4 linked regions of the Homo sapiens genome follow. The protein of the gene in region 4 interacts with the protein of the main gene of each other region in a pairwise test. Each region holds a gene or a part of one and is shown on either strand. Other genes may lie near its edges.

What was found.
Region 1: the proteins of FLNB (region 4) and TRIM55 interact in a two-hybrid assay, tested with the Homo sapiens proteins (one study listed by BioGRID).
Region 2: the proteins of FLNB (region 4) and NPHP1 interact in a two-hybrid assay, tested with the Homo sapiens proteins (one study listed by BioGRID).
Region 3: the proteins of FLNB (region 4) and FBLIM1 interact in a two-hybrid assay, tested with the Homo sapiens proteins (one study listed by BioGRID).

What each region holds. Positions count from the first base shown.
Region 1 is NC_000008.11:66,150,686-66,158,128, reverse strand, and holds part of TRIM55 (tripartite motif-containing protein 55), read right to left. Parts: intron 5,753-7,443; coding exon 5,502-5,752; intron 4,083-5,501; coding exon 3,795-4,082; intron 2,507-3,794; coding exon of another isoform or gene 2,419-2,506; intron 1-2,418. UniProt on the Homo sapiens protein: E3 ubiquitin ligase that plays an important role in regulating cardiac development and contractility, muscle growth, metabolism, and fiber-type differentiation.
Region 2 is NC_000002.12:110,159,658-110,167,100, forward strand, and holds part of NPHP1 (nephrocystin-1), read right to left. Parts: intron 5,499-7,443; coding exon 5,395-5,498; intron 5,074-5,394; coding exon 5,031-5,073; coding exon of another isoform or gene 4,863-5,030; intron 3,479-4,862; coding exon 3,391-3,478; intron 2,041-3,390; coding exon 1,946-2,040; intron 599-1,945; coding exon 470-598; intron 1-469. UniProt on the Homo sapiens protein: Together with BCAR1 it may play a role in the control of epithelial cell polarity. Involved in the organization of apical junctions in kidney cells together with NPHP4 and RPGRIP1L/NPHP8. Does not seem to be strictly required for ciliogenesis.
Region 3 is NC_000001.11:15,768,542-15,775,984, forward strand, and holds part of FBLIM1 (filamin-binding LIM protein 1), read left to right. Parts: coding exon 1-89; intron 90-1,867; coding exon 1,868-2,037; intron 2,038-6,076; coding exon 6,077-6,255; coding exon of another isoform or gene 6,256-6,490; exon of another isoform or gene 6,491-6,680; intron 6,681-7,443. UniProt on the Homo sapiens protein: Serves as an anchoring site for cell-ECM adhesion proteins and filamin-containing actin filaments. Is implicated in cell shape modulation (spreading) and motility.
Region 4 is NC_000003.12:58,144,182-58,151,624, forward strand, and holds part of FLNB (filamin-B), read left to right. Parts: intron 1-1,739; coding exon 1,740-1,868; intron 1,869-2,638; coding exon 2,639-2,812; intron 2,813-4,024; coding exon 4,025-4,183; intron 4,184-4,467; coding exon 4,468-4,671; intron 4,672-5,668; coding exon 5,669-5,821; intron 5,822-5,923; coding exon 5,924-6,046; intron 6,047-7,443. UniProt on the Homo sapiens protein: Connects cell membrane constituents to the actin cytoskeleton. May promote orthogonal branching of actin filaments and links actin filaments to membrane glycoproteins. Anchors various transmembrane proteins to the actin cytoskeleton.

The sequences.
Region 1 (7,443 bases), on a different chromosome or scaffold from region 4:
CTTACCCTGAGGCAGCTGCTGTGTCCAGCTCAAGTATCAGCCAGAGCAGCTGCTGAGTTAATCCACCAAATAGAGATCCTGTAGAAGCCCAAGGAAACTGGGGCCTTTGATGAGTTCAAATTCACCACAAGGCTGAATCCAAACCTTGCTTTTTCTTAGAGAATGCCCATGGGGGAGCTACAGCACTCTTCTGATCTAACAAAAAGTAGTGGTCCTGTCCATCACTCGTAGAGGAAGCTGATGTTTGGTTTTTGCCATGACCGGTTTTTTTTGCCTGTGTACTTGGGTGAAGAGAGAAGGTAAGGTATGTGATAAAGCAGAAATTGTTCAGCACCAGAAACCACAGGCAGTAAAATCGAGGGCATGTTTCACTGTGTACATGGATGTAAGGAAAGCACCAGGAAATAGAGCATTTGCTTCTAAAAGGTTTGCAGTTCAGCTGTTGTGGGCTGAATGTAGTTTACAGATCAGCAAGTGAGCCTGAGATGCTTCTGAGTTTTAAAGGCAGCATTACTCTGACACGGGACCACCTAGTAAAGAGAGATAAGACCACCACTGAATCAAAGAGAACTCTTACCACATCCTAAATACTCAAGGTAAGCCTAGTGATGAAATGTGAAATTCTAGCACTCTAACCTTGAACTGGACAAATATGAATCTGGTAAACTGGGTTCTGAAGTGGTGAAGGTGAATCAGACCTGCAAAATATTCTCAGAGGCCGGGAATTTGCTACTATAGTGAGGTCTCTATCAACCTGCCCATATCCCATTTCTGGGATCAAAGAGTAGTACTCCATCATGAACAGGTGTCCTTCTCTATGTGAAAGGCCCTTCCTCAAACACCAAGAACTATACAGTAAGGTTTTTTGCAATACTGGATGTCAACGCCCTCCCCACACCTGCTCCACCTGCCCCACCCTCCTCTCCCTAGGCAGGCACGTGGATGTCAGCATACATGACATGGGCTCAGTGGATCACAGCCTTGAAGCATGACACTCCCTCTGCAGCCTCAGAGAAGCAATACAAGACATATATGTAGTGACAAAGCCCTAAACCCGAATTCTCAGAATGTAAACAGAACCCTTCAGACAATTATTCAGATCCACAATTAGGTCCTGGTTCCAATAAAGCATGGAGTTTTCTCTCTCACCATTCACCCCTCTGAGTCCATGGCCAATACATCCTCCCACTCCTTTTTACCACAGATAATGTCTGAAGGAGTTGGGCAGCTGAGCAGACTGTAAGGACACTCAGGACACTCTAGGGTGCACAGGTTTCCAGCTGACTATTGGACATTGTGGGCAGGTCCTGCTCACACACAGTTCCAGACACGGCAGAGACCAATGGAGACGCCACCGCCATTGCTGAGCAGATGGCTAATGAGGCAGAAAGTCTATGAAGGGAGCTTCCAGAAGAGTCAGTGTCAACCCAGGGAAAAGTCAGTGAGCCAGAAATAGCCGAGGCTTTTCAGCACCATTGACCCTGAACTGCCTTTGAGCTACAGGAACAAGGAGTTGGGTCTCAGGCCCAGCAGGGTCATTTACACAAAAGTACATGGAAGTTGGAATCTTTAAATATTATTAATTAAACTGAGAACTTTCAAAAGGGTATTAAAGGATTATGATGTCAGTCCTCAAGCAAACCTCATAACAGCAATCAAGCAAAGGCTTGGCTATGAGAACGGTGACTCGGAAATAATATAAATGGACTGCTTGATGACTTTATGGCTTAGTTCTTGGTTCTAATTCCTGATAGCTGGTAAGTGCACATTGATCCTCTGGCTGTTAATTCATTCAGGTCTCACGTGGCTGCAATCCCCCAGATATTTCTTCAGTCAGGGCATCTTTCTCTCAGGGACCTCCTCTCCCAGGAGAAACTCTGTAGAGTCTGAGGGTTCAAAGAGAACCCACCTGCTCACCTGCATAGGAACTGCCTAGAACATCATCCCACGAGGAGTCACTTGGCCACCTCCTGGGCATCTCTGGTGTAAGCAGATGAAATGCTTGTACTTAATCTATGGAAACCTGCATTTTCCTGCAGGAGTCCTTTGCCGCTCCTTTCTCTACGAGCAGTAAGTCCTCACCGCATTATGGACACTTGAAACTGGCCTCCCCTAATGACCATTCTGGAGGGTTTGCTCCTCCTGGATTACTGAATAATTGCCCATGGAGTTACTGTTCTCAGTCAAGGTTCCCCTCCATGCAGGAATAGATAATGGAGCAATTCTCCTCAGAAAGAGGTCTTGAGGCGATTGCATTGTGTGAGCTTGAGGCCTCCAGTATAATCTGAGAACAATGTTCTTTTGGGAGGACTGAGCCTCAAGATTTGGGGAGAAATTAATCTCTGGGCCTATAGAAGAGGAACATTATGGAAGAAACTATGTGAGATGTTAGTCAAGGGAAAAGAAAATATTTCCTACCCATTAAAGTAAAAATCAAGCACTGAATCTGACTCCAGATGTAGTGAAGAATAAGAAAAGCCAAAAGCGCTAGGCAGATTACTAACTCCTGTGAGAAAACAAGAAGAAAGCTTCACTGATATTATCACAAATAATTATTTTCAACATTATTTCAATGGACTTTTCATTTTGGCTTGAGCCCTACTACGTGCTCTTCATGGGGTAGTGCACTACTGTTTTCAGAAAACAGCCCCTCCGCACACAGCTTCTACTACCATGTATAAGAATTGCCACACATTTTCTAGAAATAATCAGTCTACTGCATCTTTTACCTAAAAACCACCTCATAAGATTTCTTCCCACCAAACATTTATTTTTGTCATTTTATCTGTGAAAATAAACATCCAACCCCAAAGCATGTTACTTTTAATTTTCCAAAATCATTTCCTTTTACTACCTCATGGAATTGAAGTCTCTTGGGCAGATACAATCAAAATAATAAGTCATTGTCTGATTTTTGAGAACATGTTGTTTGTGGTTCATAATCAATCACCTGATGACCCAGGAGCATGGAACTGGAGAGTGCTTTCTGGCAGCTTCTTGCCTGGGCAACACTCACACCCTACACATCATTTAAGAATGCTCATGAGTATGGAGTCACCATGAACATTCTTCCTTGTGAAGAAATTGTAAAAGATTTCTTCTGTGGACTCTTCAAGACATGCAAACATCTAACCAAGTGTTAGGGGGAAGACATGGACTTCAAACTCATCATATAAAGAAAGAGTCTCTTGAAAAAAATCTCTGTGGAGGAGCACCTGTGCTTTTCCACTCCCAGGAGTACATGCTTAGGAAGCACAGGTTTAATCAAGCCAAGACTGTCTCTGTCTAGCTGTAGCCAGCACACTCCAAGAATCCATGAATCAGAGGTTATTCTCCAGAACAGACTTAAAACTCAAGTGTGCTCCTTGGGGGTTGCTGGGAATGACACAAAAGCAGGGGATTAGTCTTTAGAAGCCCAAGGAGGACACAGGGAAGGCTGAGCAAGGGCAAGTGGCCGTTGGTAAGGAGGACTGGGGACACAGCCAGTCACTGCAGATGAAGCAGCGCTCAGTAGCATGCCTAAGGGCCAGGCTCACTTGCACCCCTCCCCTGGGAAGCCAGGTGTGAGGTCACCATGCACCAGGAGAGTGAACTCAAATTTGTTTTGTTTTATGTTTTCTTTTATATAGAGCTCAAAACAAGCCAACATTGGGGGATGAATTGTTTCTGTACTTTTCCCCTGGCTGAGGTTTCTCTCTGCCCCTTTGAAAACCCTTTTTCTTCTTGCTGTGGCCTGTTCCAGTGGGACCCTAGGGGGCGCGGGAAAGCATAGACACAAGTGCATCATCACTAACCTGAGAAGTAGCTGCAGGTGCACTAGTTTCCTTACCACTCACAGCTGCCCTCTCACTCGCTGCGGCTGCTGCCACTTCTGCCTTCCGTACATTCGAATCCTCAGAACCTGGAGGCCCTATTTGCCCCAGACCTTCGCTCCCTGGGGTGCAAGGTGGGTTGGTGGTGGCTTTCCGGGTTTGGCCTTTATACCAACTAGGGTAAAACAAGGGATCCGCAGTTTCTGCTGCTGCAGGGACTGGAGTTTCAGACTCTGTGGTCTGCTCAGAGCCAGTGGGTACAACCTCCCCCTTAATCAGGACAGATAAATTCAAAAGTAAAGAAAAAAAAAAAGAAGAAGAAGAAGAAAAAGCAGTTGATTTTAGTTCCCTTTGGGTTTGAACACTGTGCGCTCCCTGCATGCAGTGCCTTGGTGGCCGTTTTAGTTCATCCCACCCTCCAGAAGCGCTAAGGGCAGAATGGTGACTACAGTGCCCCTCTGTCCAGCATCTGGATGGGTGCCCTCTTCTTTTCTGAGCTTGTCTTTCACTCACTGGGAGCCCAGGCAGGCAGAGAGCAGAAACCTCAGTGAATGTTGGTTATAAAATATCAGATATGGGAAAAGGGTCAAACTATTGACTAGAATAATTTGTTGGCTTTATACGTGAGTCCCAAAAACCTCATTATAAAAAACAAAAATTAATCTTATTGATCAAATCCAACCCTCACTTAGTTACTATACCTCTTTCAATTTTAATACAACTGAAATGCTCAGAATTTAAAAATTCTAGACTATAAATGGCATTTTAGCCTGGTTTCCTGTGGAGACAGAGCATAGAAATACAGTTCCATCTCTGAGATCCCCCTCTGGAGTTTTGTTTCAATCCACTTCAAAAGCAGTTGCAGAAGCAGGACTCCTCTCTGATGAGTCTGCACTGCCTGCAAACTCAAAAGGTTGGGATCCTGTCTGCTGAAGTATCATGGAGTCTGCACAAAGGCTTGAAAACTGGACGGTGACGTATTAGAAACATGAGGTCAACCAATTAGGTGCAGCATCTGGGGTGAGCTTATTTCTTAAGATATGTTTTAAACAATTCTGTCAACACACAATCTCATCAAATGACAAATCCATAGAAAACCAGGCTTCATTGTTTGCTCACTGAAGGAAAAATACATAAGTTGTATTTCAGGGTAAGCAACAGGAACATAAACTAGTGTAGTTTCTCTATTTACCCCCTCAATTATCTACAGAAAATTCAAAGTTCTGAAAGTATAATCACTTTTATTTCTTACTCTGTATGCTATTTATTTCTCATCCTATACCCTACATATACATTCACTAAGTAACAAAGAGCAGACCCAGTCCCCATGATATCAGCTCTCTATGAATTAACATGACACACAGACATGGACACACACACACACACACACACACACACACACACACACACACAATTTCCAGACAAAGATTGCCTTTGATTTGAGGGCATTACTGGTGGGAAAGTTGTATTAAATTTTGTTAACTAACAATAACAACAAAGAACCTGTTGAATCACCTAGAGGACTTTTCTCCCCGACATGAGGACTGTCCTGAAATCTTTCGTCTACCATATACGAATGTCTGGCATATAGTTATCTTTTTCTTAAGGCAGAATAGGGTAAATTGTTTAGGCTATTCCATAAGGAGACACGCCCATGTGCCCTGTAGAAAGAGACTCAGGAGGGGTTACCTGTGTCACAGGGGCATCCGCAGCAGGTGGCAGGGCTGGAGGTGGCTCTGGAGAGGAAACTGGAAGTGCCCCAGGGGCAGCCTGCAGCTCCACCTGAGAGAGCTCTGAAGCTTTTTCTGGGTTTTCATCTTCTCCTGGAAACTCTGTTTGAACATTTTCTACCTCTTCCACTTCTACTGCTTCTCCTCCCACTTCTCCTTCTCCTTCTTTTTCTCCTTCTCCGCCTTCTTCTTCTTCTTCATCTTCATCTTCTGGTAAGGTAAGGTATCTTGTAAATTGTTATAACTATCTCTGCAGCCATGGACACAGTTAATGGCCAGTGCTTATAGCCCTAGTTAAGGTCAAGGCTGGGGAGTTTTTCTCTGACAGACACTTGACAATGGTCCAAGTGTGCCGTGCCAGGGCTTTGTGCTTCTAGTGGAATGTGGACTGGACAAATGTGAAGGAACCATCCCTATCCTCCTTGTTCTCCTCCCCAGTACAAAGTCTTCACCTCTGCTGTGCATAATGCCCTTCACCTTCCAGAGCCCGTCCACATTTTTATTACAGTCTGCCACATCTGCAAGCTCCTGGAGGCCTGGGATTGTCACTTATTTATCTCTGTCAGATTAAATGGAAGTGCAACTGTCTTCCCTGTCTCAGAAAACATACAAAGCCCTTTTGTCATTTTAGCTTTCTACCTCTGTTGTTCAGTGAATACTGACTTTTGCCATAATTAATGTCACGACTCTTTTATTTATTTATTTATTTATTTATTTATTTATTTATTTATTTATTATTTTTTGAGACAGAGTCTCACTCTGTCACCCAGGCTGGAGTGCAGTGGTGCAATCTCAGCTCACTGGAACCTCCGCTTCCTGGGTTCAAGTGATTCTCCTGCCTCTGCCTCTGGAGTAGCTGGGATTACAGGCGTACGCCACCACGCCCGGCTAATTTTTTTGTATTTTTAGTAGAGATGGGGTTTCACCATGTTGGCCAGGCTGGTCTCAAACTCCTGGCCTTAAGTGATCCACCCGCCTTGGCCTCCCAAAGTGCTGGAATGCCGTGACTCTTTTCCTGACCCACTGATCTTAATATTCCCTCAGGCGACATTAAGGACAGGCAATATTAAGCGATTTTTTTAAAAAGATACATCCTAAAGATTTGCCTTTAAAATTTTGTCTGTGGATGTTGGTGCAGCCTCATAGCATTACTAGTGGTCTAGTGGTCTAGCTGAGGGGTGTGATCATCTAGGTGGGCTAGCATGAGTCAAAGTGATCAAAGTTTTGGTCAGCTCCAAGATTGTTTTTCACTTTTCAATTATTTAATCAGGATAAAATTTCAGAAATGGGACTTCTGGGCCAAAAGGTAGGAATGTGGTTATAGCTCAGGGAGTATAACTAGTCACACAGACCCAGGTTTATGTTCAGGTTGTGACTTATTCTATGAGTTGTTACTATTCTTGTCCTCTAAATTTTGATTAAGTTGATGTGCTGCAATATCTAACCCACATGCCTCCTATGTATTGTTTTTATCTCATCTTTAACCTTGCTCCTGCTGACACTTTACATTATTTTGGCTAACACTGTGCATAGGATTGAAGTTGAGATATCATCATTATCAATTATGAAGCATTTGCTTATCAAGAGTCAAATACCCAACCTGACATTAAAATAGGCACCAGGCCGGGCATGGTGGCTCACTTCTGTAATCCCAGCACTTTGGGAGGCCAAGGCAGGTGGATCACCTGAGGTCAGAAGTTCGAGACCAGCCTGGCCAACATGGCGAAACCCTACCTCTCTAATAATTCAAAAATTAGCCGGGTGTGGTGGCAGGTGCCTGTAATCCCAGCTACTCAGGAGGCTGAGGCGGGAGAATCGCTTGAACCCAGGAGGTGGAGGTTCCAGTGAGCCAAGATCGTGCCATTGCACTCTAGGCTGGGCAACAGAGTGAGAGTCCATCA
Region 2 (7,443 bases), on a different chromosome or scaffold from region 4:
TTCTTTTACTTTTTAAAAAAGTCTTAATAGTCTCACTATGCATCTTTCAGTTTTATTAATGTTTTCAAAGAATCAACTTTTGTCTTTTTTAAAATTTTCTCTTTGGTCCATCTGTTTTCTATTTCATTAATTTCTACTCTTATCTGTATTATTTCCCACTTTCTACTTTCTTCAGGTTTAACTCACTCTTCTTTTTCTAGCCTCTTGATTTGCTAGCTTAGATCACTGACTTTAAATCTTTTATCTTTTTTTTAATATACACAATTAAAACTATAAATTTCCATCTAAGTACTGTTTAACCTGTATCTCATTTAAAAAATGAATTTTTCAAAGAGTCATTCAAATTTTTCTTTGGTACTAGGTAAAAAATACTCTCTTGGGAATTGGGGAGGAGTTGAATGGAAAAGAATCTAAGGGAATGTTTCTCCATAATCCTAGTATGAATTGATTTACTTCTCAGTAACCTTACCTTATTACCATCAAATAGACAGAGGCGTACATGTCTGCTGAGAACCTGTATGCTCATTCCTGGAAGAGGAATCATTTTACAGCTCCATAATGTCAGAATCAATGAAATACGACTTGGTCTCGACCTAATCTGAAAGAAAAATTAGTTATAAAAAAGTTTATTTTTATGATTTCTAACACAAATCTGTCTTTTGTGAATTCGGCTTATGAAAATGTATACAGAATTTTTAAAAAAGAAAAAATTTACACATATACAATAAAAGTTTCAATACTCTGTTCATTGAAAATTAAATCAGTCATTTTAGGTAAATTTTTCATAGAGTTACATTTGAAATATTGCATTTTTCTTAAATACTTAAAAGCTGTGATGAAAGGAACAATAAATATTGGCAGGCAAAATGTATATGATCTATGACTATAGAATCACTGTATTCCAGTCCCGGTTCACTCCTACAGAATGTGGGTAAGTGCAGAAGGCTAACGCAGCATAAAACCAATGCCACCTGGCATTAAGATTATCCCCACTATTTTTTATTCCAAGCAATTATCTGCATAGTTCCTTAGTTTCTTAATAGGTGTTTTAACAGAGAGAATGCACTATCTGATATATTTATTCAGATCTGCTTCATAGGTATAATTCAGATTGTGAGTAAATAAATTGGCATTCTGATTTTTTATTTTTTAAGAACAGCTTCAATTCATTAAACTTTACATTCTGCTTTACGGTCATAAGCCTTTTCATTTAAATAACTTATATTAGACTGGGACTGGTGGCTCACACTTGTAATCCTAGCACTTTGGGAGGGATAGGAGGGCAGATTGCTTGAGCTCAGGAGTTTGAGACCAGCCTGGCAACGTGGCAAAACCCCATCTTTACAAAAAATACAAAAATTACCTGGGCATGGTGGTGTAGGCCTGTGGCCCCAGCTACTCAGGAAGCTGAAGTGGGAGGGTCGCTTGAGCCCAGGAATTTGAGGTTACAGTGAGCCATGATCACACCACTGCCCTCTAGCCTGGGTGACAGAGGGAGACCCTGTCTCAAAAATACTACTACTACTGCTACTACTACTATAAATGATAATAATGGCTAACATCTATTGAGTTCTTTTCATATGCCAGGCATTATTCAAAACCCTTCACACACATAATTATCAAAATAACTTTATGTTGGAAGCATTACTATTACTCCATCTTTACAGATGAAGAAATTGAGGCAAAGAATGATTAAGATAGAAACCTAGTATTATTTCCTTTCTAACAATGAGAGAAGAGTGCAATGGAGAAGAGAAACAAGATAAAGTCAAGGTAGCAAGTCCAAATTCTGCCTTAGTTATAAAAATATCGCTATTTTCAAAATTATCATAAACAATTTTTTTGTTTTTTATAATTCATTAGTCAATTAACATGTTGTTTGTCTAATTGCAACTATGACAAAATCTGGAAGAGTTACACTTTTACTGATAGTAACTATACTTACAGTGCCTTCTGTAGCATCCCACATCAGATCTCTGAAGGCCAGTTGTGAAGGCATGAGCTCTGGTTGTAAGAAGTAATTTGCTCGAAATTGATTCCCTGAAAAAATCATTTTTTCTTCATTTTCTTACAAAGAAAGAAACTCCAAATCAAAAATCCATAATGTTATGCTATGAACTAGAGTACAGGCACTTCCAAAATGCCACGCTGCTTACTAAGAACTTGCTTTCCAAAATAGAAGCGCCAATATAGATTTATGGATAAAAACAGCAGTACAAAACTTACAGATACAAACACATAAAAGATCATCTTAAAGCACCTTTAAGAAAGACTTTTAGGCCAATAATATGCCCCATGATGACAAGGATTCATTCAAATATTTTTGTAAAATGCAGAAATCTATGAGCACTTTTTGGAGACTTCAGAAAAAACAAAGTCGTTAGTTTTACTTCTTAACACAAAAGCATTTTATGCTCTTCCTCCATGCTTTAGTCATGAATAATACTTTTAATAACATCATTTATCCATTCGAGAAATAATTTTTGAGCTTCTACTCTTGCCAGATGCTACACCAGGTTCTAGAAATACAAAGATAAATCAGAGATATGTCCCCTGCCCTCCATAGTTTACAGTTGAATGGGAGGAAAATTTTCTTAGAAAATAAGTAGACAAGCAAATAAATAAAATAATTATTAGGGGACATAGAGCTATAAAGGGTGTTCACATGAATGGGAGTAAGGGAAACCCACATTACTCAAGGAAGGCATCTCTGGGAAGGCAGAATTTACCGCGAGACCTGAAGGATGAAAAGATGGGAATTTAGGGAGTACTGGGAAGAACCTTCCCAGCAAAGGCATCCTCAAAGCAGCCCTTCCATGACAACTCAACAACTCAGGGTATACAGGACACCCCTTGTCCCCCAGCATGAATCCTCTTTAAAATGAGCTTATAGACAAAAGTTGCCAAATACAGGGAAAGCCAAGAATGAGTAAGGAAAATGAAAATTCCAAATGGAGATAATTCTTTGGAAAAGTCTTGCTTGGAAGAAGATCAGAGAAAAGGAGGTTTTGGCTAGAATGGGATAGGATTCAAGGGGCTGATCCTTTAAGGTGGGGAGAATTAGGTGTGCTGATAGCACAGATGAGGGAATGAACCAGTGTGGGGAAGGTGGGCCAGCTAAAGACACAGGAAAGGGCTGAAAATTAAAGGAGTCACATTTTTGAAAAAAAGAAAGGGGCTGGAACCCGGAGCACTGGTAAACAGGCTGGCCTCTGATAGGATCAGGGATCTTTCCTCACTGTCATAGGAAGGATGAGGAAAAGATGAGCACCAAAGAGATGTGAGATTCAACATCTTCTTCAACAATGTGTTTTGCCTGTGACAGAAAAATTAGACGTGGATCTTGACTGCTTTGCTGAAAGAGTGCAGTGGCTGATAGGCACGCATTACCTTCCTCCAGAAGCTGTGAGAGCGTGGAAGGCCTGAACCCTGCAGGAATAGCTCCCATCGTAGTTAACACATCAACAGTGTTTATCTGCTGAAGACAGTAACATCAAAATGGATTTGTTTTCAGTCATGTTTCTGCATCTCTATAATACTTTATCACTAGAGTAACTATAACCCAAAAAAGAAAAATATAAACATACAGACTTTAGTGGAAGAATAATACGATTTGGCCCCAAATTCCTGAGAGGATGCCATCACAGCACCCTGGCCTCTCCTAAGGACCTAAGCCCCATACAGTGCCCAGCGTGCAGAGCTGTGTGTTCCGGAGCAGCTGCTTCAAGTATACCCTTATCAAAATGTCCCTGCTCCTGTCCTGCTCCACCCTGCGCTTCCATTTCACAGGTAAGTTAATGTCTATTGGCAAATCACATGCACTGAAGAATTAATGGATTTTTTTTGTATACACATACACACTACTCATAGACACACACCCTCACACATACAAGGATGTACTTATAAGTAATAAATAACGAAAAAGGTCAGGAAGGACACGTACTAAATTGTTAATGGTGATTACTTATGAGTTTGAGGAAGAGAATTTTCATTTGGCTATGTAATTATTTTTTTGTTTTTTGAGACGGAGTCTCACTCTGTCGCCCAGGCTGGAGTACAGTGGAGTATTCTCGGCTCACTGCAACCTCCGCCTCCCAGGTTCAAGCAATTCTCCTGCCTCAGCCTCCCCAGGAGCTGGGACTACAGACATGCGCTACCACGCCCAGCTAATTTTTCTATTTTTAGTCGAGGTGAGGTTTCGCTGTGTTGACTAGGCTGGTCTTGAACTCTTGACCCCAGGTGATCCACCCGCCTTGGCCTCCCAAAGTGCTGGGATTACAGGTGTGAGCCACTGTGCCCATGAGCCACTGTGCCCGGCCTGTAATTTTTTTTTAATGACAGAATTATGGATCATTTCTCCTTTAAAAAAATGTAATTAATTACTTTTTTTTTTTTAAGACAGGGTCTTGCCCTGTCACTCATGCTCTGGAGTGCAGTGGCACAATCACAGCTCACTACAGCCTTGACTTCCCAAACTCATGCAATCCTCCCACCTCAGCCTCCCGAGTAGCTGGGACTACAGGCATGAGCCACCACACCTGGCTAATTTTTCTTATTTTTTGTAGGATAGGGTCTCACTATGTTGCTCAAGCTGGTCTTGAATTCCTGGCCTCAAGTGATCCTCCTGCTTCAGCTTCCCAAAATGTTGGGATTACCAGTGTGAATCACCATGCCTGGCCAATTTCTTACTTTTTATTAAAGGCTTTCAGGATTTTTCGAATAGTAAATAAAATTTAACATCTGTTTCCACTCAAATGATAGGAAAGCAGGATCAATGAGAATGTTTCCAAGTCCTCAAGTGACACCATGAATTATCTATTCTTTTTGTACAAAAAAAAAAAAAAACTAATGAGAAATGTTACTTGGAGCACAGGCTTAGAAACCAGAAATATACGTCCTCTGCTCTGTACATTCCATGCCCTGAACCCTGTTTCAGATCCATTGGTGTCTTCCACAGTCTCCATCCTATTTCGCATCAGAACTATTAGGTAGCAAAACGAGACATGATTAACAAGACAGAAGATGCCCGCCTCTGAAATCGCTTTCTGAACAGCACTCCAGTGGGGATCAGTTCTGGGGAGACAAAATAGCAAAGTGAGTCAGGTCAGGTTATGCCTATTCACTCAATTAGGGAACTTCTTTAATCACAGTTGATAATCATCAGTAAGTTTTGAAAATCTAACAGTTTCCAGATGAAAACGAGGTAGAGCTAAATGTATTAAAAATAATTACAAAACTAAAACAGTAATGATCTTTAAGCAGACAATAGTATGAAAAGCTCTCCAGGTACAAGTTGTCTCCATTTCAAGAAAGTATTGAATTAGTTATAATAATAAAAATAAACAAATAAAATGTTTCCTAAACCTACTTTGATATCCTTTCCCACTTTTGTACCTTTGCTTAACTTCTGCTCCATCTGCTGTTTCATCCACCGCCTCTACATCTTCTTCACTGCCCTCTTCACTTGACTCTTGGCCTTCTTCTTCTTCACTATAAGGCTAAAAAACCATTGAAATGTGAAGTGCTTTTTAACTAATGCAAAAAACAACCAATAAAAATACCAGTACTGCCACCTAACCCTCCAGTAAAAACAAAAACAAGCTTTTCTGTTTAAAAACAAAAAAACAAAAGCATCAGTACTTTCAGAAAATCTTGAGCATAGATGGGAATTTAGTATATATGATGAGCATATAAAACTCAGTGGGAAATAAATTTTCAACACATGGTTAATAACTTTGCTATTTGAAAAAATAAGAACTGAGATAGACAGCAAGTTTAATCAAAATAAATTCCAGATGGAATTTACTTAAATAAAAAAGAAAAGACGTAAAGATAAAAATAAAAGAAACATAAAAGCATTAGAAGAAAATAATCTAGAGATGGGGAAGCCCTTTCCAATCATGATACAAAATCAAAAATCATAAGTGGAAACACTGACAGATTTAGCTACATAATAAATAAACATGACCTAAAGTCAACAAAGAAAATATCTAACACATAACTTAAGCATATCCTGAGGGGAAAAAAAGAAAATAGCTCACACAAATATCTAAGGATTAATATCCTGATTATTAAAATATTATAAAAGCTCTTAGAAATCAATGAAAGAGTTTTTTAAATCCCTTAGAAAAAAATATCCAAAAGAACTGAAAAGGTACCAACACATAAAAATGATAAGCACTCAAGGTGATGGAAATCTCAAATACCCTGACTTGATTATTACACAATCCATACAAGTAAAAAGCACTCACACAAATACATAAAATATTATGTATCAATAAAGAAAACCGAAAGTGCCATTCGCAAAGAAGATATACAAATGGTCATAAAGCATATGAGATGATGCTTAACCTCATTAGGAGTACAGTAAATGCACATTAAACCACTAATGACACTTTTTTTGCTGGTCATATTGGCAAAAATTTTAAAGATTGCTAACAGCCATCACTGGCAATTGTGTGAGGAAACAGCACTCACTGATTGTTAGAGGTGGGAGTACAAATTGGCATAACTTTTCTAAAAGGCAAATTGGAAAAATAAATCAAAATATAAAGCTATAAACCCTTTGAACCAGTGATGAACATCTAGGAATTTATCTAAGGGGATAATCGGGCAAGTGTGCAAAGATGCACGCAGGCTTGATGACAACACAAGTTGCTGGCTGGCTACCACCTATTCCCCACCTCCTTTTTCAAACAAAATCCCTGATTTAACAATGATCCAGTTAAAAGACTACATTTCCCAAGACTTCCTTGCAGCTAACTGTTGCCAGAGAACTAAATGCTGGTCAATGAGCAACAGTTGAAAGTTTTTTTGTGTAACTTCCAAGAAACCTTCTTAAAAAGGCAGCAGCTTATGCCTTTTGAATTCTTTCCCCTTTTGCTCCTTGGAATCCTTAAAAGATCCAGCAGCTGACTTAAAACTAAAGAGATAACTCTAGGCAGAGCAGCCTCACATCAGAAACAGGATAAAATACTGGATAGGATCTTAACCAATTATTGATTGCTTTTCTCCACACTTTTATGCTTGAGAGAAATAGGCTTCTACCTTATTTAAGCTACTTTTTGGGGGGATCTTTTTGCAACTGACAGTGGATGCTAATCCCATGTTCTTTGCAACATAATCGATAGTGATTATAGGTTGGAAACAACTTCAATGACCATCTAAATGAGATTAGAAGACTTGCTGCCATTGAAAAAGATGATCTAGACCTGCCCTATGTAATACAATAGCCCTTTGGCCACATGTAGCTAGTGAGCTCTTGAAATTAATCCAAACTGAGAAGTGCTGTAAATGTAAAACACACATTGGATTTTGAACTTAATGTTAAAAAAGCAAAACAACTCAATATTTTTAAATATTGATATGTCAAAATAGTATTTTTGATATACTGGATAATATAAAATATATTATTAAAAATAATTCTACCTGTTTCTTTTTACT
Region 3 (7,443 bases), on a different chromosome or scaffold from region 4:
ACCTTCAGTCCAGCCCGGTCCCCTCAGGCCCATGGAGGAAGAGCTGCCACCTCCCCCGGCAGAACCTGTTGAGAAAGGGGCATCCACAGGTAGGTGCACAGGGCTGAGAGGATACTGGGGTGATCTCATGGGGCCAGCATGGGCTTCCAGGTAGAAACCAAGAGAGTGAGGACCCCTCTTCCCATCCCCACCCCAGCTCATGTTAACAATGATGGGCTTTGTAGTTCGGCATCCATTTAATTTGTATTGCTTTAGCCTTTTTCCCTTTATACCTAAATTCTATTTAAAATGTTAGTCTGCAGTTTGCTATGATAGCAAAAATGTCTTGAATTTTTTCTCACTATTTTATTTTCTGAACACCTAATGCCCTCACACAGTGCAAAATAAACAGCATGAGTGGGGACACAGTGAGAAGCCTGCAACCTGCCCCATCCCCCTACCACCCGGTTTCCTTCCAGATGGGTGTCCTCTGTCATTGAGCTCTCATGTATCCTGCCAAAGACACTATGCACATACGAGCAAATACAAATATGTGTCCACCTGCTCCCTCCCCCCATTTTTCCATAAGTAGCAAACTAGGCTCTTCTGCTGTTCACTTTCTTTCCTTCGTACATCTCAGAGCTGGTCACACATCAGAATATAAAGTGGCTCCTGGCTGAGCGTGGTGGCTCACGCCTATAATCCCAGCATTTTGGGAGGCTGAGGCAGGTGGATCACCTGAGGTCAGGAGTTCGAGATCCGCCTGGCCAACATGGTGAAATGCTGTCTCTACTAAAAATACGAAAGTTAGCTGGGTGTGGTGGTGTGTGCCTGTAATCCCAGCTACTCGGGAGGCTGAGGCAGGAGAATCTCTTGAACCCAGGAGGCGGAGGTTGCAGTGAGCTGAGATTGCGCCACTGCTCTCCAGCCTGGGTGACAGAGTGAGCTTCCGTCTCAAAAAAATAAAAAAATAAAATAAAATAAATAAACAAAGTGGCTCCTGGCTGGGTGTAGTGGTTCATGCCTGTAATCCCAGCACTTTGGGAGGTCAAGGCAGCCAACAATCCCTTTGTCCTGAAACTGCTGTCCAGAATTCCTTATTTATTTATGTTATTTATTTTTATTTTTATTTTTTTAGACAGAGTCTTGCTCTGTCACCAGGCTAGAGTGCAGTGGCGCGATCTTGGCTCATTGCAACCTCCACCTCCTGGGTTTAAGCGAGTCTCCTGCCTCAGTCTCCTGAGTACTGGGACTACAGGCGCCCGCTACCACGCCCAGCTAATTTTTGTATTTTTAGTAGAGACAGGGTTTCACCATGTTGGCCAGATGGTCTCGATCTCTTGACCTTGTGATCCGCCCACCTCGGCATCCCAAAGTGCTGAGATTACAGGTGTGAGCCACCGCGCCGGGCTCTTTATTTTTTTTAATTTTTATTGTTTTTCCTGAAACAGAGCCTCACTCTGTTACCCATGCTGGAGTGCAATGGCACAGTCTCGGCTCACTATAACCTCTGCCTCCTAGGTTCAAGTGATTCTCCTGCCTCAGCCCCATGAGTAGCTGGGACTACGGGGGCATGCCACTATGCCCGGCTAATTTTTGTATTTTTAGTAGAGATGGGGTTTCACCATGTTGGCCAGGCTGGTCTTGAACTCCTGTCCTCAAGTGATCCGCTCACCTTGGCCTCCCAAAGTGCTGGCATTACAGGTGTGAGCCACCATGCCTGACTCAGATTCCTTTTTAATGCTCCTCATGACCCTCTGTATTTGTCATTTGAGGAATTTGCAGGGTTTAAGACAGAGCCTCGGGTATCCTGAGCATGTTCTGGGTGGTGCCTGGGTACAGTCCTCACAGGCTGGGCTGGTGATGGCCTGTGTCTCCCCTACCCCAGACATCTGTGCCTTCTGCCACAAGACCGTGTCCCCCCGAGAGCTGGCTGTGGAGGCCATGAAGAGGCAGTACCATGCCCAGTGCTTCACGTGCCGCACCTGCCGCCGCCAGCTGGCTGGGCAGAGCTTCTACCAGAAGGATGGGCGACCCCTCTGCGAACCCTGCTACCAGGTAACCCCTGCAGCAGACCTCTGGGTGCCAGGCAGTGAGCTGAGCACTTAGAATATGTTGCACCATTTCATTCCCCACACAGTCCTGGGAAGTAGGCACTATTGACCCCTTTCACAGATGAGGAAACTGAGGCTCAGAAAGAAGGAGCCCAGTGAAGGCGATTGGTTTCCTAGGGCTGCCTGTAAGAGATCACCACAACCTTCGTGGCTTCCAGCAGTACACGTTTATTCTGTCCCAGTTCGGGAGATCAAAAGTCCAAAATCAGCTTCACTGGGCCAAAACCAAGGTGGTGTGCTGTCTGGAGGCTTGAGGGAGAACCCACATCTCTGCCTTTTGCAATTTCTTTTTTTCTTCTTCTTCTTCTTTTTTTTTGCGGTGGGGGACGGAGTCTCACTCTATCGCCCAGGCTGGAGTGCAGTGGCACGATGTCAGCTCACTGCAACCTCGGCCACCCAGGTTCAAGGGATTCTCCTGCCTCAGCCTCCCGAGTAGCTGGGATTACAGGCACCTGACACCACACCCGGCTAATTTTTGTATTTTTGGTAGAGATGGGGTTTCACCATCTTGGCCAGGCTGGTCTTGAACTCCTGACCTCGTGAGCCACCCACCTCGACCTCCCAAAGTGCTGGGATTACAGGCATGAGCCACTGCGCCCAGCCTGTTTTTTTTTGTTTTTTTTTTTTTTTAAGATGGAGGCTCATTCTGTCACCCCAGCTGGAGTGCAGTCGTACAATCTCAGATCACTGCAACCTCTGCTTCCCGGGTTGAAGCAATTCCCATGTCTCAGCCTCCTGAGTAGCTGGGACTACAGGTGCCTGCCACCATGCCCAACTAATTTTTGTATTTTTAGTAGAGATGGGATTTCACCACTTTGGCCAGGCTGGTCTCAAACTCCTGACCTCAAGGAATCCACCCCCTCGGCCTCACAAAGTGCTGGGATTACAGGTGTGAGCCACCGCACCTGGCCCCTTTTGCAGTTTATGAAGCTGCATTCTCCTTGACTCCTTCCTCTGCTTCAAAGCCAGCAGTGTAGCATCCCACTTCAGCGGCCCTATTGTCACCTCTGTGTCAAGTTACAGGGACACGCGATGGCATTTAGGACCCACCTGGATAATCAGGATAATCTCCCCCATCTTAAGATCCTTAGCTCATCCCATCTGAAAGCCTCTTTTGCCGGGCAAGGTAACATTCGGGGTCCAGAGATAAGGACTGGATATCTTTGGGGGCATCTCTTAGCTACCACACGAGGTCACACGAGATGGCCAAGGAGCTGGGATTCTACTCCACACCCATCTGGCTCTGGAGCCTGCCATCAGTCTTGCCACTATCTCCCCTAGAGTAGAGCCACAGGGTTCCAATGTTTGATCTCACGGGAATCTGTGTTGCTTCCGGGTACCAAGTGCAATCTGGGAGAGCCAGCTGGGATGCCAGCACACTGGAATTTCTAACTCTTGGATGGTTTGTGGTGGCATGTTGAGTGTGGTGACCACCCACAGCCGCATCCCCTGGGGATGTGTAGGCCACTCTTTGTGCTTATGAATGAGGAACACCTGGAAATCAGCATTTTGAATCAGTGTCTCAAGTGATTCTCATGCATATAGAAGTTTGAAAACGGCTGATTTGAAGGGTTAGAGTATTTGGAGCTGAGACTCTCCAGAAGAATCCAAACAATCCAATCCCAGGCTCACCACCAGTGAGGCACTGTGGGAAGAGAGAGGAGCCAGGCCCTCCCTGCCGTGTCCCTGTGACCCCATCAACATCATGGGGGAGTGTTCCTCAGGGGTGAGACACCAGGGGAGGAGGGGTGTCCAGCTGGAAGCAGGAAGCAGCCAGGAGGAAGACTTGAGCAGTGTGCTGGGGAGAGAAGGGCCATGCCCATGAGAGGGAGGGGGGAGTGGGAGATGCCCCCACACGTGTCCAGGTGAGGTCAAGGTAAAATGCACAGGAGCACAGCCAGGAAGGAGAGACAGCATGTCCAGGAGAAAAGGTGGAAAGGCTAGAGGGAAGCCCACTGCCCTGCCTCGGGAATCTCTTTGTCATTGCTCCTCATTCCAGAAGGAATTTGAGGCAGCTTCTATGAATGCATGTATACCAGCCAGGCGCGGTGGCTCACACCTGCAATCTCAGCACTTTGGGAGGCTGAGGTGGGAGGATTACTTGAGGTCAGAAGTTCAAGACGAGCCTGGGCAACATAGCAAGACTCCATCTCTATTTTAATATAGCTATTTTTTTATTAAAATATGTTTTTAAAGAGAATGCATATATACCTATAGACCACAATAACATGCGTGCACTGAAAAATTCCACGTGATTCTCCCGCCTCAGCCTCTCAAGTAGCTGGGATTACAGTTGCCCACCACCACGCCCGGCTATTTTTTGTATTTTTAGTAGAGACGGGGGTTTCACCATGTTGGCCAGGCTTGTCTGGAACTCCTGACCTCAGGAGATCTGCCTGCCTCAGCCTCCCAAAGTCCAGGGATTACAGGCATAAGCCACCTTGCCTGGCGCATTTCTTCTTAAAGCATCATATAAAATTATGTTAACTGGCCAGGTGCCGTGGCTCATGCCAGGCCGAGGCAGGTGGATCACCTGAGGTTAGGAGTTCGAGACCAGCCTGACCAAAATGGAAAAACCCTGTCTCTACTAAAAATACAAAAACTAGCCAGGCATGGTGCGTGCCTGTAATCCCAGCTACTTGGGAGGCTGAGGCAGGAGAATCACTTGAACCCGGGAGGCAGAGGCTGCAGTGAGTCAAGATCACACCACTGCACTCCAGCCTGCGCAACAGAGCAAGACTCCATCTCAAAAAAAAGAAAAAGCCTGGGCACGGTGGCTCACGCCTGTAATCCCAGCACTTTGGGAGGCTGAGGCAGGCAGATCACCTGAGGTCAGGAGTTCGAGACCAGCCTGACCAACATGGAGAAACCCCGTCTCTACTAAAAATACAAAAAATTAGCCGGATGTGGTGGCGCATGCCTGTAATCCCACCTACTCGGGAGGCTGAGGCAGGAGAATTGCTTTAACCCGGGAAACGAGGTTGTGGTGAGCCAAGATTGCGCCACTGCACTTCAGCCTGATTGACAAGAGCAAAACTCCGTCTCAGAAAAAAAAAAAAAAAAAAAGGTAGATCTCATGTTAAGTGTTCTTCCCACAATAAAACAATTTTTTAAAGACTGCAATAATACTACGATATGTAAAATAAAGACATCCAAACAGAAGGAAAATCAAAATAGAAAGTGAGACGAGATCAAAGGGAATGTTACTACCCAAAATGTGTGAGGAAGCCAGACACGGTGGCTCACGCCTGTAATCCCAGCACTTTGGGAAGCTAACGTGGGTTGATCACTTGAGGTCAGGAGTTCGAAACCAGCCTGGCCAACATGGTGAAACACCGTGTCTACAAAAAATTAGCCGGGCGTGGTGGCGCACACCTGTAGTCCCAGCTACTCAGGAGGCTGAGGCATGAGAATCACTTGAACCTCAAGTAGAGGATGCAGTGAGCTGAGATTGGGGCACTGCACTCCAGCCTCAGTAACAGAGCGAGACTCTGTCCCAAAACAAAACAAGAACCAAATAACAACAAAAAAGCCCTATAATGGTTTCTAAACGTGAAATGTGGAATTTGGCTCTGAGCTTCCAAGTGGCCAAATGGAAAAGGGAAAGAATTTCAAGTCTTCTTGTCTGTATGATAAAGCACCCAATTCTCCTGAGAATTCCTTTTCCTGACCCTGAGGTTTAAGCGAGGTTTCTCCTATAGCTCTGTGGACCCTGGCCATAAACATATCCCAGTAACAAGAAATGCAGCCATAGCATCAGGGCATCAGGGCAGTATTCCTTGCTGTAAGCCAAGGATGCAAGGCTAAGCTCAATTTGTTATAAGCAATGGTGGAGGTTTTGGGCGATAGTTACAGGTTGTCTGCAGGCCTCTCCTGTACTTCCCAGTTCCTGGGCCCCTGAGGGCAGCCTCTCAGAAGAAGACGACCCTCGTGGGTTGGGGTGGGTGTGTCGTGGATGGTTCTGGCAGTGGCCTCTGTCCTAGGACACACTGGAGAGGTGCGGCAAGTGTGGCGAGGTGGTCCGGGACCACATCATCAGGGCCCTGGGCCAGGCCTTCCACCCCTCCTGCTTCACGTGTGTGACCTGCGCCCGGTGCATTGGGGATGAGAGCTTTGCCCTGGGCAGCCAGAACGAGGTGTACTGCCTGGACGACTTCTACAGGTACGAGAAGGGTTTGTGCACTGGGTGGGGTGCAGGGACAGGGCGAGACCCAAGCAGGGTGAAGGAGCTGAGCTTGAGTCCTGGGTGCTGGGCCAGAGTTTCCTGTCTACTGGTTTATTATAAAGAATATTACAGGGCTGGGCTGGGCGCGGTGGCTCACGCCTGTAATCCCAGCACTTTGGGAGGCCGAGGCGGGTGGATCACGAGGTCAGGAGATCGAGATCATCCTGGCTAACATGGTGAAACCCCGTCTCTACTAAAAATACAAAAAAAATTAGCCAGGCATGGTGGCGGGCGCCTGTAGTCCCAGCTACTCGGGAGGCTGAGGCAGGAGAATGGCGTGAACCTGGGAGGCAGAGCTTGCAGTGAGCCGAGATCACGCCACTGCACTCCAGCCTGGGCAACAGAGTGTGAGACTCCGTCTCAAAAAAAAAAAAAAAAAAAAAAGAATATTACAGTGCTGGGGGCAGTGGCTCACACCTGTAATCCCAGCACTTTTGGAGGCCAAGGTGGGCAGATCATGAGGTCAGGAGTTTGAGGCCAGCCTGGCCAATACGGTAAAACCCCATCTCTACAAAAAATACAAAAATTAGCTGAGCATGGTGGTGTGTGCCTGTAGTCCCAGCTACTTGGGAGGCTGAGGCAGAAGAATCACTTGAACCCAGGAGGTGGAGTTTGCAGTGAGCCGAGATCGCACCACTGCACTCCAGCCTGGGTGACAGAGTGAGACTCTGTCTCAAAAAAAAAAAAAAAGAAAAGGATATTACAGCGATACAGACAGACACGTGAAGAGATGCCTAGGATGAGGTCTAGGGGAAGGGGCAAGGAGCTTACATGCCCTCCCTCCCCAAGTGTGCCACCCTCCAGGAACCCCCACATGTTCAGCCACCTGAAAGCTCCCGAACCCTGTCCTCTTGGGCCTTCTATGGAGACGTCATTGGATAGGCATGATTGACCACCCAGTAGAAATTCGGCTGGAGGAAAAGGGTATGGTGGAAGCTAATAAACTGAGAGGGAAACCTAGCAGGGCCTGTCCAGAGTCATCTTGGTCTCTATGCAGCTTTTCTTCCTCCAGGATGGAGGGCAGGATTCTCCCTGGAATGAATGAAGGGCTTATGACTCAGTCAGATAAGGCAGGCCAGAGAATTTCTTTATGGCCAGCTCCCAGCAAGAAAGGTGGGAGAAGAT
Region 4 (7,443 bases):
TTTTCCTTCCTACCCCTCTCCTTGAACTAGACTATCATAAATTTTTTTATGTTCGATTTCAGAGTTTCAGGGTTTTATTTTTTATTTTTTTGTGGAGATAGGGTCTCACTGTGTTGCACAGATTGGTCTCAAACTCCTGTCCTCAAGCAGACCTCCCGCCTTTGTCTCCTAAAGTGTTGGGATAACAGGCATGAGCCGCCACGCCTGGCCAATTTCAGAGTATTTTTAAGACTCTCCATGCAAACGGAAATACAGATATATAAGAGAGTGTCTTCCCAGCCTTCCCTCATGTGGACGAACCATTACATATTTGACCATTTCCCTATTGGAGGGCATTTTGGTTCTTCCTGCCCTCGCTGTCCCCAGTGTTGCTGCGCAAATCGACTTTTCCCCTAGTCACCTCACACTCACAAAGATGTATCTGTGAGATTTAGTTACCAGAGGAGGCAATGCTAGGGCCCCAGTGCAGGCATCTATGATTTTGACAGATCTTGCCAAATTGCCCTTCAGAGGGGCTGTTGCAGTTCACACGCCCTCTGGCCATGGAGAAGAGCACCTTCTTTTCCACAAAATTTGCCAGTAGAATATGGTATCAAATTTTTGGAGCTTTGCCAGTCTGATGGTTGGAAAGAAACAGAATCTCAGCGTTGCTTTATTTGTATTTCTCTTGTGAATGAGACCACACAACTTTCCCTATGTCTATTTGTATTTCTTTTTCTGTGAACTGAACATTTGGATCCACGGCCTGTTTTTCTATTTGGTTATTGGCCTTTGTCATATAGTTTCTAAGAGCAATGTAAACATTGGAGAGATTAGCCCTTTGTGGTAGGAGTTGCAAATGTTTCTCTGAGATTGGCATTTACTTTAGTTGTCTGTATGTAATATTGGTTTAAAGCAAAAATGTATTATCTGCTTCTATTTAAATATTCTAAAGCGGCAGATGGAGAGAGAGGAAAAAATGTCTTTCTCACATCTGCCATCCACTTCCACTGCTGGTGTGAGTTGTGTATCTTTTCAGATGTTTCTCTCTGTATCTACAAACATACATATAATTTTATTCTATTTTGTTTTTAAAGGAATAGCATAATGGTATTCATAGTTTATAGCAACTTGCTTTTTTTCTTTTTAATGCATCATATTATGGATAATTTCTCAAGTCAGTAAACATGGGTCTTCCTCACTCTTTTTAATGGCCCATGAGTAGATCAGCATTTATTTAACCGGTCCCCTGTTGTGAACACTTAGGTCTTTTCCTGATGTGCACCCGAACACTGCAGAAATGAAAGTGCTTACATAGGGCTAGGAGTCGGGGTGGGCAGAGAAGACCACTGTGGGGTTGATTCCTTACAGGTTGAATGGCATGGGCAAATGGCCTTCCAAAAGCCCTTTCCACTTACCTTCCCTCTGGCCATGGGTCCTTTCACCACCCAGTGCAAAAGTTTCTTCCTTATTTGTCAGGTTGGGCTGGTACCTTACCTTAGCCCCCTTCCTCATCTGGAGCAGCTTCCAGGATTGTTTTTCTTATGTTGTGATTGAAGGAATAATACTGCGTAGACCCTCTCTGATGTCCTAGGATGGCGGGGGATGGGAGGTGCATGTGCATCTCCTTCTGTCTCTTCATGCCTCTGCTTAGGAGGCGCCAGACCTGTAGAGAGGTGGACGTCAAGATGCCAGTTGTCCAGGGTCTTCGTTCACCCCTTAATGAGCACCAATTTTGTTTGTGTCCTTCGTAAACCCAGAGAGCCCACTCCAGTTCTACGTGAACTACCCCAACAGTGGAAGTGTTTCTGCATACGGTCCAGGCCTCGTGTATGGAGTGGCCAACAAAACTGCCACCTTCACCATCGTCACAGAGGATGCAGGAGAAGGTACTGTGTGGTTTACGTGTTTATACGCCTCCAGCTGTCCATTTGGAGGGTGAAGTGGACACGGTTCCAGGGTGGCTTTTAAAAGTGAGACAATCGAATGGTAGTATTTGTCTTGTCTTTTCTCTCGTGTAAATCTGTTTCTTCTTTAGAGCCGCTTCGTCTTCTACCCAGACAGACATTTTTGAAGTCCTTTGTGTTCTAACTGAAATCAGATTCATGCTATGAAATACTTTATGTGACTTGTCTGGAATTTAAGTGTGTTTTGGTTGGTGATGTTTTTGTTCTTGTTGCACATGTATCCACAAGACCACATGACTTACTGAGTGGCTCTTTTTGATAAAGCTGTGTGCCCATTCCCGTGGTATTCATGGATAATCCCAAATCTGTGGTTCTAATGGGATTTCCGTGATGGCAGCCAGTGCCTGATGGGCAGGGACAATCCACCTCTGCCCTCCACCACCCACCGTCTCCTATGTGTAATTGATGTACACGGCTCCTTCCTTTTCTCATCCCATGCATCCTGAGAGTAGAGAGAGCTCCAGGGTTACTTGCAGTGAAGAACTCAGATGTTTGGGGTTTCTTCTCAGTGGGTGTTTTTACTGCGTGGACTGCTTCATTCTGACAGATGTCCCTTTGCCCACAGCTCACGTGGAGTGCGTCAATCCATTGTCCCCAGCATCAGGGCTGCCCTGGATGAGTTGTTAAAAGGAAACTCTTAAAACAAGGCAACTCTCTCCCTAACACCCCTGCATCCCTGTTCCCACTTGTAGGTGGTCTGGACTTGGCTATTGAGGGCCCCTCAAAAGCAGAAATCAGCTGCATTGACAATAAAGATGGGACATGCACAGTGACCTACCTGCCGACTCTGCCAGGCGACTACAGCATTCTGGTCAAGTACAATGACAAGCACATCCCTGGCAGCCCCTTCACAGCCAAGATCACAGGTAGGGTTGTCTGGCTTCTGGGGTCTTCCTCGTGGGAAGTATGGCTGCCTCTGACTGCCACCCTCCTTATCAGACCCCTGGCAGCAGGCTAGACGTCTCTTTGAGTTTAGGTTTCACAGAGACTTGTTGAGGAGGAGCAGGGGATGGAATGCAATTTTGGATTAGCTAAATCCTTCTCTTGCTGATAATCCAGGAAAATGCGAGAGCTAGTATTTGGAGCACACTTTTATTGTGCCAGTGTGACTCTAGGGTGCAAAGAGAAAGCTCTCAGATGGAGTGTTCGAATCATACTTACTGCAATAGTGCATGAAGTGCATGAGCTTAGACATGCCCTTCAGCGTCACTACTAGGTAAATTTTCTGCTATCCCTTTTACAGATGGGAAAACTGAGGCTTGGCAAGGTAGTGGTGTAGCCAAGTTCACATATAGGTAAACAGATCCAGGTTATCAAATTCCAAAGCCCATGCTCCTCACCTTGCTGTGTTCAGGTTATGCTTTCAGTGGGTTATAAGGAAGATGCACAAGGCAGATCCTGTTTCCCCACCGTATTTAGACCTGTCTGTGAAGCAGCCAGTAGTACTGTGTGGAATGTGGTCATTGTTTACCTAGAAATGCCCACAGCCATGCCAGGCAGGTATGAGGTGCCTTCAACTAACAAAAATTCCTATATTTTATTTTATTTTTGAGACAGAGTCTCACTCTATCACCCAGGCTGGAGTTTTAGTGGCATGATCTCGGCTCACTGTGACCTCTACCTCCTGGGTTCAAGCGATTCTCCTGCCTCAGCCTCCTGAATAGCTGGGATTACAGCACCCACCACCACACCCAGCTTATTTTTGTATTTTTAATAGAGATGAAGTTTCACCATGTTGGACAGGCTGGTCTTGAACTCCTGACCTCAAGTGATTCGTCTGCCTCAGCCTCTCAAAGTGTTGGGATTAGGCACCTGGCCCAAAGATTCCTTTAAAATGTGGTCCATGAGGACTCAAGTCTCTAGGTCCTGCCAGCTTCTTGTCTTTGCTGCAAGCAGGCATGAATCCCATCATTCTTCATTGGTTGGGTCTACTCAGTGTTCAAGGCTCATTTTTTTTTCACTTAACTTTGTGTAATTAGTTCTTGCGTGTTCATCCGTGAACAGCATATGGCATGGCAGCTCTGTGAAGCCAGGGTAACCACATGTAACGGGAGTCCTTTTTGGGGGATGTTTCCCAGATGACAGCAGGCGGTGCTCCCAGGTGAAGTTGGGCTCAGCCGCTGACTTCCTGCTCGACATCAGTGAGACTGACCTCAGCAGCCTGACGGCCAGCATTAAGGCCCCATCTGGCCGAGACGAGCCCTGTCTCCTGAAGAGGCTGCCCAACAACCACATTGGTGAGCTAGGCTACCCTTCCTGGCTGGAGCCAGGACATCTTGGGTGGGAGATGGGGACTCTTGCAGTCCTTTCTTGGGAATGGGTAGCACAATGGAGTGTGATGTGATAAACCTGCTGGGTCACACGCACGATAAATGCCCAAGCGTATTTGTGCATTGTGATATCGACACTCTGGATTGTTGGGTGTCAGGAAAGAGGACATATTTCTATTTCTGAGAGTGTGTCTCTCTCCTGCTTCCTCTCCGCCATCCCCTTACAAGCCCCAATCTGTGTTCTGGTCCAGGCATCTCCTTCATCCCCCGGGAAGTGGGCGAACATCTGGTCAGCATCAAGAAAAATGGCAACCATGTGGCCAACAGCCCCGTGTCTATCATGGTGGTCCAGTCGGAGATTGGTGACGCCCGCCGAGCCAAAGTCTATGGCCGCGGCCTGTCAGAAGGCCGGACTTTCGAGATGTCTGACTTCATCGTGGACACAAGGGATGCAGGTCTGTGTGGTCCCAGGGGAGAGGCCCAGAGCTTGTGGGAACCGACTTATTTTGCTGAGGCAGCGTCATCTTTTCATCCTACCAACTCCTTTTCCTTTCTGAGCATCCTTCAAGCTATAGGTCCTTCTGCCTGCATTGTCTTTTATGCCTCATGACCATTGGCAAAAATGGGATTGTCTTTGTTTTTTAGATGATGAAACTGAGGCTTGCAAGGTTTAGAGCCCCCTCTGCACTAGGATCTGAACCCAGAGCCACAACACCTCGCAAACCCCTGTTTTCTTATCTGCTCTCCCACCCTTGTTCTCAGCTTCCCAGCGTCTCTCCAAGCAAAGAATGTTGGGTTGATTGGCCAAGACCATGGTCATCTGAGCAGAGCTTTTGTGGAAATGAAGCATCTCTTTCTGTTTTCTCTTTGAGATGGTTTGAGTTAGATTGTGTCTCTTCCAAGCTTGCCACACCCCAGTGCCTCCAGTCATCTGCTTTCTTGAAGGATGGCCACGCTGGTGAATTCTAGACAAATTCTAACCCGGGGAGAGGGCTGGAGAATTTCTGGTCCTGGTTGGGAGATACTCCCTGTTAAACCTTCGGATATGCTGACCTAGCTGAGGTAGCCAGGGGCTATTTAAAAATTCAAAATCTCAGATCTGGCTGTGGATAAACCCCCAAGGTGGTACGTGCAGTACTTGGAGGCGTGAGGGCAGAAGGTCCTCCCCAGCAGTTTGTACGGGACACATCATCTATGGGATATTAGTAAATATCCTTAAGGAAAGGCTTCTGTGGTCAAAACCAGGTTCAGCAGGTTATTTCACTATGGGGCTTCTCAGGACGCTTAACCTACTCATCCCCCTCTGGGCTTTGCAAACGAGGCCGCCATTGCTTTCTTTCTGCTATGTAGAAATAGATTGAGGCGTAAGGGTCGGATGTCCTTTCTCCATTCATCAGGCTCCCTCTTCCTGAGGAGCTGCTGTCAGAACAGCCTGGGGCTGCTGTGTTGCAGGTTATGGTGGCATATCCTTGGCGGTGGAAGGCCCCAGCAAAGTGGACATCCAGACGGAGGACCTGGAAGATGGCACCTGCAAAGTCTCCTACTTCCCTACCGTGCCTGGGGTTTATATCGTCTCCACCAAATTCGCTGACGAGCACGTGCCTGGTATGTGCATTCCATTCCCCTCCAGGTGGGATGCTTGGGTTTTCTGTAAATGCTGTGCCTTGGCCTCTGGCCTGCTCACAGGAGCCTTCTTGGGTCTTGCAGGGAGCCCATTTACCGTGAAGATCAGTGGGGAGGGAAGAGTCAAAGAGAGCATCACCCGCACCAGTCGGGCCCCGTCCGTGGCCACTGTCGGGAGCATTTGTGACCTGAACCTGAAAATCCCAGGTGGGCGTCGGGGACTAGTAGGGTGGGGAAGCCTTGGCTCCAGCCTTCAGGGCAGTGGGTGCCTTTGGGAACCAAGTTTAGGCATGGCCCAGAACACAGTATCCAAGTCGGCTGTGCTGACCTTTTCATTTCACTTCATTTCATTATGTTCTTCTATGTTTATTTTCACAGAGTCTCATCCAAGAAAAACAAATGTTTACCTTGCTACCTTTTTCCTCTTCCAAATAAAAATAGCTTTATTGTGTCACATGGGGGAAACGTAGATATGCTTTTAGATTTTTAGATTAACTATCTGTCAAATAGAATCATGTCAGTGAAAGAACTGGCCCTGCCGATGCCAGGGTCTGGAAGTATTTAAGAGGTGGCAGCCCAGCGGCATCCTTCTAGTATTTCTCTTTCATTCCTGAAATTAGAACGAGGGCTGTGCTGCAGAACTCGCTGGGCCACATCTAGCCCTTTGGTGGTGAATTGTTCTTCTTGGGCCCCGATTAGCCAGTCAACAGGTCACACAGTCTGTCTGAAATGTGTTCCAAGTTCTTTCTATAAAGAATCCTTCCAGAGGGAAGCCACTGTGAGTGAAAATTTTGAGGCTCCTCTGCCCAGAAGTTGGCATGTCCTGTGGAATTGCACAAATTCTACAGAGAAGGGAAATCTAAATCGTCTTCAGATGGAGCTTGTGTTGCGAGCTCTGGAGAGGGGGTTGTCTTTCTACACTGCATCTCCCATCCTTCCTAACGAGTCACGGAGCTGTCGACTCCGCCTTCTTGGCTTTAGTTAACAGGTTCTTCTTGTGTAGTCACATCAACGTCGGGTCACATGGGAATGTGGTAAAGCCTCATTACTGTAGAGTTCAGACATGATCACTTAAAAAGAGCTTTATTGGGCCGGGCGCGGTGGCTTACTCCTATAATCCCAGCACTTTGGGGGGCCGAGGCAGGCAGATCACCTGAGGTCAGGAGTTCGAGACCAGCCTGGCTAACATGGCAAAACCCTATCTCTTCTAAAAATACAAAAATAAGCAGGGCGTGGTGGCGGGCACCTGTAATCCCACCTACTCAGGAGGCTGAGGCACAAGAATTGCGTAAACCTGGGAGGTGGAGGTTGCAGTGAGCTGAAATTGCACCGCTGCACTCCAGCCTGGGCAACAAAGTGAGACTCCTTCTCAAAAAAAAAAAAAAAAAAAAAAAAGAGCTGTACTGATCGTTTGTAGTCATAAACAGTTCGTGTGCCTCAAGGTGGGGGGAGGAAGTGTCACCTCCCAGAGAGAGCTTGGTTCACATTTTAGGTACAGAGTTGGACCCTGGCTGCCCCATCCTCATAGCCACGTCTGCTCACTTTCCAGTCACATTGGTGTACTCATCCACTGTTTTTGTGGGCATCTTCCCACCTCAAAAAAT